Linked DNA regions of Homo sapiens. The protein of the gene in region 1 purifies or fractionates together with the protein of each later gene. This does not show direct contact. Each region holds a gene or a part of one and is shown in the gene's direction. Other genes may lie near its edges. The genes, in order: MAN1A2 and UBE3B.

Region 1 (3,987 bases):
GAGACGCCTGTCATATCGGGGGTACCTAGATTCCTCTGAAAGGAAGCCCAGCTGAAGGAGCAGGGTCACCACTTTATTTTAAAAACGTAACATGGCACATGTTGGTGCTCTATTAATCGAGCCTCGGGGGCCCAATAACGTGAGCATGGGCTGCTGCGTGGAAGTTTGAGACCCTGTTGCTGAATCCTCGGGCCTGACGGTCTATCGCTGAAGACAAGACTTCCAAAGAATCACAGTAAACGTTAACCTAAGCCATCAGAAGCCATTAACTCCGGTGACACTACATTTCAGCGAAACCTTCGCGACCCAACCCCTCGCTCCCTCTCGCCCAAACGCTGGGTCAACCCCACGAACTGGCGGTGGCAAGGCCCTGGGCACCGGTGAAGTTCTCGTGGCAGCGCAGATCGGCGACCTTCTCTTCTTTCGCGCTCAGACGGCGGCGGCAGCAGTACGCTTTCGGGCTGCTGGAGCCGGCAGCGGCGCGAGGCCGGAGCCCGGGCAGCCAGGCTGGGTGGGGGAGGGGCGGCGGCAGCGGAGCCGGGAGCGTGCGCGCGCACCTCACACTCCGCCGCCCGGGGACGCCCACTCGCGAGCCGGGGCCGGTAGGCCGGCCCGGGTCCCATCGCCCCCGCCCTCCGGTTCCTCTCCGGCGTGAGCCCAACGGGTGTCGGCCCAGCAGCTGCTGCGCTCACCAGGCCTGGGGAGGCAGGGTACGGGGACCGGGCCGCAGCCCCGAGCGGCGTGGGCGCGCTGCCTCTCTGGCAGCCGCCGCCAGAGCCAGCAGCTGCGAGCCACCGGAGGCGGCGCGGAGGAGGCCCCCGCGGCCGGGCAGGAAGGAGACGCGGCCGACCTCTGCCCGCCCGAGGCGCGGCTGCTCCCGCGCGCCCAGGCCCTCCCGCCGCTCCAGGGCTGAGTGAGGAATGAGCCGGCGCCTACCCCGGGCTCTCGGAGCGTGGGCCCCGGCTCGGCTTCTTAGGCGCGAGGGCTCGGCCACTGCGGCCGGCGGCCTAGCTCGGGGAGCAGGCGCCGGGGTTCACTGAACCGGCCGCGGAGAGGAGGAGGAGGAGGAGGAAGAGGAGGAGGAGGAGGAGGAGGAGCTCGGCGGGGGCGGCCGCCGCGCCTCCCCTCCCCCAGGACACGCCGGGGCTTCTCAGTGGCCGCCGGAGGAGGAAGTTCCGCTCCCTGACAGACCCGTGCGGTAGCAACAGCGGCGGCGGCCGCGGCGGCTGGCCGGACTCAGGTGTTTCGGACGCTATTGCCCTTCGCGCCAGCCGTCGAGTGGGCAGCAGCGGGACTCAGCCGGGCGCCAGGTTCCTGCCAGGCAGCGCCGGGAAGCGCGGGCGGCCGAGAACTCCTTCCTGCTACTTCGCCCAGCGCCGCTGCTTCGGCTTCCCAGCGAAGTGGGAGACCTTCCTCCCTGTTTGCAGACGTCCGTGGGAGACCCTTATTTTTTCCACCGCTAAGGTTAAGAGATTCTGGAATAGAAGCGTCGAAGGAGATCAAGTGAACCTTCTACAACTCCTCGGATGTCGCCAGTCTCCCTTTCGGGGCGGAAGACTACGTTTGAGCATCTCACTGAGGTGCAGGAATGGAAGAACCCACCTTGCAGCTTTTCTGCAGTGTGGCTTGCCTGATCTACCCCTAGGAATGAAGAGGAGGCTTGTAATAATCCGATGAAGTACAGATGTTGAAGAGGATATCGCAGGACCTAAACTTGTGATCGTTTGGGGGAGGTCACACACGTTTCTGAGTGGGAATGGATGGGCGTGAATGACGTGCCCTCTTAAAAAGCACAACAGTCCTTTAAGAGGAGCAAAATTGAGTTTTCCCATTTTGGCCAAGATTTTGAAGACAGTTCAATGTATTCTACATTTGACATAAGATGAGAACTTTCTAAAGTATTCTCTCCAAGAGCGTAAACGATGACTACCCCAGCCCTGCTGCCCCTCTCTGGACGTAGGATACCACCTCTGAACCTGGGGCCGCCTTCCTTCCCACATCACAGGGCTACCTTGAGACTTTCTGAGAAGTTTATTCTTCTCCTTATTCTTAGTGCCTTCATCACTCTGTGTTTTGGGGCATTCTTTTTCCTTCCAGACTCTTCAAAACACAAACGCTTTGATTTGGGTTTAGAAGATGTGTTAATTCCACATGTAGATGCCGGTAAAGGGGCTAAAAACCCCGGAGTCTTCCTGATCCATGGACCCGATGAACATAGACACAGGTTTGTTTATTTCAGAAGTTCTGGTACTAACATTTGGCAGAGCAAGGTACGGTGATTGGATCGAATCTGTCTTTTTTTTTTCTTGCAGTAAAATGTAATTTTTCGAGTCATAAATATTGTATTGTTACTTCAAGACTGGCTGAATAAAACCATAGACTGGAGGGACTCTACCTCCAGTCTATGGTAGAGTCCATAGACTGGTAGGACTGGAGTCCTACCTAAGTCGTTCTTCTCTTCGGTTTTATATAAGAAAAACATTTGCGTTCAGAGTTGTGTCTAATGTGGACATCTGGGAAGGGAGGTATGAAAACTTAACCTAAAGAAATGGTGACATAAGCTGTGCCTGCATTTATTAATAACGTGTTGGAGTCAGTCATTGTGCCACCATGTGAAATCAAAGCATCGAACCTTGACAGCTCTTTTGGGTGTGCTCTCCCAGAGGGCTCTCGTTTTCTGGCTTGTAGTTGAAGCTTAGTAGTGAGTCAGCTTTTTAGGATGACAAACGTGGGCAGAATATACCTGTCATTTCTTAACGTGAAAATATCCTGATTTTTGTTCTTTTTTTGGGGATGTGTGTTGGTGCTGTATATGAAATCAGTTAAGTTAAAAGGTATTGAATCCTAAGTTATTGCACTTTGTGAGGCTTGTAGACAAGATTTATTTTTGTGAAACTTAATTTTGCTCTCTCTTTTAATGTAATAGATGGACTGTGTCAAGCAACTATTGGAATTTGGTTGATTAAGGGGTTCACATTCTTTCAGATCACTAAATCTAAAGTGAGCTCTGGGGAGAGCATAGCCAAACTAGGATAAAATGGGAGCTCTAGTTACAATTTTTATAATTTTTATATTTGTACTCAAGAGTTTGGGAAAGTAGTTGACTTTTCTTAAACCTGCCATCTTTTCCTTGTTTCTTAAAATAATTCTTGAGTATGTGGGAAAAAAAATCATGTGCTTGAATTCATTTCCCATCTGATGATAGTTTTAACTTTTTGTCAAGCACCGAAAAAGCTTAGGTTCACGTGTAAGCCTACATTAAATATTTGGGAAAATGCACTGTTTTATGAGAACTGGTTTTTCTTTTTTTCTCAACCTAGTTAATTCATTACTTGTGTGATGGTTCTTTGACTTTTGGATGAATTTTATGGAGTAGTTACTTCTAATATTGTTTCATGCCATTCTTTTGTAACTAAGTTAATTTGGAATTTTTGCCATTTTCGACTACTGTACTCCTGTATTTGTTTCTTTAATTTTGCACTTTGCTTGTTGTGACTTTAAGAAAACACTAATATGATCTGTGAAATATGTTACTGAAAAATTAACGGTGAAAGTAGTTTTCCTTGAAAATCTTATTTCGCATGGTATTTGTATAACATATGAAATATATTGAAAAAATGTGTTAAGGCTGTTTTTAGAGCTGTTTCACAACAGCCACACATTAACATTACTTAGCTCTATTATTAATAGTATCTGTCATGTACTAAGCAGTTTAAAAAATACATTTTGAATGGTCTAAAAGTTTAAAATAATATGACCACATTTTAGTTTAAAAACATTTACACAAAAATTCTCAGTAAATGGAGTTAAAATATGAAATTTGAATGAAAATACAGATATGTGCCTTTTATTCACATTTTTAACAGTCTGTATAAATAGTTTAAACAAGAATTCTTAAATTTATGAAGCCCTTGGATATATATGCATATGTATTTAGCTATCTAAAACTATTGGGTTCCTGAGTTTGGAATGAGAGATTGGTTATTG
Region 2 (4,021 bases), on another chromosome or scaffold:
CCTGAGTCCACTAAAAGAAGTGCACTTTGTATTTTCAAGATTGCCAGGAAACTGCTGTTCCTATTCAGAATCAAAGAGGATAATGAGGTAAAACGATAATAGCAAACATGTATAATACTTCCATATGTCAGATCTTTTATAATTATTGATATTAACTCAGTTCTTATAGCAGCTTTATGAGGTAATTACTGTCACCCTCACATCCTGTCCCTTTTGTTTTCTTGGGACCTGTTTTGGAGGGATTATGCCCAGTGCTTTTAGGAATCTTTTCACATTGACCATTATAAGCACAAGTTGAACTCAGATGCATGCAAGAGTCAGGAAGTTTAGGTAAATGAGTAAAAAAAACATATATGAGATAAAACATAATACAAAATACAAATCATATTAAACGGTAACTGACAGGCAGCAGTGGTAAGGACATCAAAAGGAGTAGCAGGGTCTGTGGCCTGCCCCATCCACGGGGAGCAGCTACTACACACCTCGGTGGTGGACTCATACTCTGATTTTTTTTTGAGATGAAGTCTCTCTCTGTCGCCAGGCTGGTGTGCAGTGGCGCAGTCTTGGCTCACTGCCAGTCTTCACCTCCCGGGTTCAAGCAGTTCTCCGGCCTCAGCCTCCCTAGTATCTGGAACTATAGGCTCGTGCCACCACGCCCAGCTAATTTTTGTATTTTTAGTAGAGATGGGGTTTCACCATGTTGGCCAGGATAGTCTCGATCTCTTAGCCTTGTGATCTGCCCGCCTCAGCCTCCCAGAGTGCTGGGATTACAGGCGTGAGCCACTGTACCCAGCCTCTGATTTTTTTTTTTTTTTTTTAAAGAGATGCCAAAGATCTGAGTTTTTATGCTCAATGTTCGTTCATTCATTCTTTCATATTCTGAGACAGGGTCTCACTGTCGCCCAGGCTGGAGTGCAGTAGCACTATCACAGCTCACTATAGTCTTGACCTCCCAAGTCTCAAACGATTCTTCTGCCTCAGCCTCCTCAGTAGCTGGGACTGCAGGTGTGTGCCACCATGCACAGCAAGTTTTTGTATTTTTTGTAGAGATAGGGTTTTACCTTATTGCCCAGGCTTGTCTCAAACTCCTGGGCTCAAGTGATCCACCTGCCTCAGCATCCCAAAGTGCTGGGATTACAGGCGTGAGCTACCATCAATGTTCTAATTTGTAAATCTTGGCAATTAATTTGAAATTTTTTAAATATCCTGCAAATCATACAAAAGGTGCCAGTTTGCACCTTAGGGATTAGAATGATCAGCCTGAAAAGTGTAATCCCAGAAAAGCAGCTAGTTATCTGTAATAGTACTAACAATGCCACTGAGGCATGTCTCCAAGTTACCAGCTGTTAGGCTGTTAGGCATTCCTATTGCTAAGCTTCACATTGTGCCAACCCTCTCTAGGCACTGGGCCCTTGGGAGGAAACAGGACGGGCAAGATCTCTACGCTCATGGAGCTCATAGCCCAGCAAGAGAGGGAGGACTATGCAGGCAGTGAACACATGATTACGTAGATGAGGACAGATAAGCTGGAGGAGGTGAACCTCATCTTACAGAGAAGGAAACTGCAGCTCAGGGTGGTAGGGCAGCTTGCCCAATATCACATGGTTTAAGGGCGGATCCAGGATTGGTATAGCCAAAATGGAACCTGTTTTCTAGTTTCCACTTTTCTTCCTTTTGCATTACAGGATAAAAGTGATGATACAGCAGCCTTTGGCTACTGGCTGTGAGGCAAAAGTCAGTATCCATGGTGCTTAAGAAAAGGTAAACTGGAGAGCACAGTTGAGGAGACAGCAGCAGGCCTGCAGGAATCCAAATCCAGTTTGCCAGATTGATACTGTTTTTTGAAAGAAGCCTCAATTTGGGTTTTTATGTGAAGTATACCAGTTTCTAAAACATTTCTATAGGGTTCCTCCAGCTCTTGGGCCACCAGTTGGAGAACCCTTTAGTCTTTATGATCTTCAGTGTCCTCATCTGTAGGAAGGAACTGCATGTGATTATGTGTGAATCACCTGGCATAATACCTGCACGTGCCAGGTACCCGCTGAAGGCTTGTTTTCTTTGTTTTCACTTTTTGATGGATTGTGGGAATGTATAACCCCCAGTGTGTCTCTTTGCAGAGATTTGAGAAGTTGTGTCGCAGCATCCTGAGCAGCATGGATGCTGAGAATGAGCCTAAGGTAAGTGGACGGGAGCCGCAGTGTCTCCCACAAGCTCTTAAGGGCCAACCTACTGGGCTCTGAAAGTTCCTGTTGAATATTAGGACCAATTCACACACAAATGCAAATAAGTAGTGGATGGAAAACATTACCAAAGTACAAATGATTCCTTAGTTTCTTCATGATCCAGGTAGCTACGTTCTGCTCTTGCCACAACACAGGATAGTAAATTTTCTTACTAGGCTATTTTGTCTTTGCGTTTAGTGTTAAAATAAGTCCTGTTTACAGCTTATTTGTCCATTCAGGTCCACTGCTTTATCTGGCACTGGACCTAACTAATAGGTCCAGTTCCAACAGTTAGAGCACAAGTGATATGATCTCTATAACAGCCCATGACATTCCTCTTTTTCCCACCTATAGGTGTGGTATGTGTCCCTGGCTTGTTCTAAGGACCTCACCCTCCTTTGGATTCAACAGATCAAGAACATTTTGTGGTACTGCTGTGATTTTCTCAAGCAGCTCAAGGTAACAAAAAAAAAAAAAAAAAAAAAAAGCAAAACCAGAAACAGTACGTATGTCATTTTCACCTGTAGACTTTAGTCTGTATTTTCAGAGTCACTATCAACGAGAGTTGCTAGTTGAGCCACTGTTCTGGAAGAGAGGAATTTTGATTCTGTTATCAATATGAGCCCTCCTTTGGTGTGTGTTGGACCCTTAAACTGCTTGCCACGCCACAGCCTCCATGGCAGGGAATCTGTCACTTTCCTTCCCATTCATTTAATGTAATCAGTACTTTATGATCTACATTATTATACTAGTCAGGCCTCTTGTTAAAAGTACAGAAGCCGAACGTGAGCACAGCTAGTATCACGTACCAGTTAAGCAAGGAAGAGAACGTTGTGCTCTAGAATATATTCAGTAACGTGGCAGCTAGAGTAAGGAGAGCTAGGGGGTTCTGATTCTCCCTCTCATTCTTTTCTCTCATCCCTGCTCCCTTTTGGGGTCACCTCGTCCTTTCCTGCTGTAATCATGGCAACGAGCAGTTTTGACTTTATATTCTTACTCTGTCTTGACTAAAGGGAGGAGAGGCCTCCCGACCAGTTCAAAAATCCAGGTTTCTTGTAGGTCCAGTGAATCCTGGGTTCATCTCTGAACCAGTCACAGTGGCAAGAGGAATGGGGTACTGCCACTAGCCCAGCCTGGTCCTGTGTTCCCCTACCCCCTTCAGTGTTCTGAAAAGGATGGACAGGGGTGTGAGCAGACATACACAGGAGCCACTTCCACTTTGCTTATAAGGATAGAGAGGTCTCAGGGACAGAGGCTTGGCAAGGACACAGATAGCAGCTCAGTAATGGAACGAAAGTCCCCAGACCGCCCCCAACCCCAGTAATAATCCATTCCCAGCCATCCCTCTTTGGCTGCTCAGGAATGGCTCTTGCCATGCCTGGCTTGTCAGGTGAGACATGGCTCAGCGCAGGGTTTCCACACTATGTTCCTCGGAGCCCTGGGAGTCCACCAGAATGCCTTAGGGCCAAGTGAGCAGGGTATTTCCCTACCTGCACGCGAGCCAGGCAGATCCTTGTTTATCTGCTCTCTATGTGTACATTCCACAACAGATTGCTCTTTGAGGAGAAGCTCTTCTATTTTGGACAAACAAAAAAAGTTTATGCAAAGAAACAGACGTCAGGAGAAAAAGGGCCCTGACTCTGGAGCCAGGAATATGTGAAATTCAGTCCTGATTCTGCTGTTCATTTCCCACGTGGCCTTGAACAAGCTGCTTCCCCTCTCTTACTGTCGATGAGCTTTGAGGTTTGAACTCAGTGGTCTCCAAGGTTGTCTCCAAGGTCCCTTCCAGGTGGACCTGC

The links.
Region 2: the proteins of MAN1A2 (region 1) and UBE3B purify together in Homo sapiens (affinity purification with mass spectrometry; one large-scale study listed by BioGRID and IntAct). This does not show direct contact.

Annotation. Positions count from the first base shown.
Region 1 is NC_000001.11:117,366,262-117,370,248, forward strand, and holds the start of MAN1A2 (mannosyl-oligosaccharide 1,2-alpha-mannosidase IB), read left to right. Parts: upstream 1-1,187; 5' UTR 1,188-1,922; coding exon 1,923-2,224; intron 2,225-3,987. UniProt on the Homo sapiens protein: Involved in the maturation of Asn-linked oligosaccharides. Progressively trim alpha-1,2-linked mannose residues from Man(9)GlcNAc(2) to produce Man(5)GlcNAc(2).
Region 2 is NC_000012.12:109,483,895-109,487,915, forward strand, and holds part of UBE3B (ubiquitin-protein ligase E3B), read left to right. Parts: coding exon 1-87; intron 88-2,117; coding exon 2,118-2,177; intron 2,178-2,576; coding exon 2,577-2,681; intron 2,682-4,021. UniProt on the Homo sapiens protein: E3 ubiquitin-protein ligase which accepts ubiquitin from an E2 ubiquitin-conjugating enzyme in the form of a thioester and then directly transfers the ubiquitin to targeted substrates.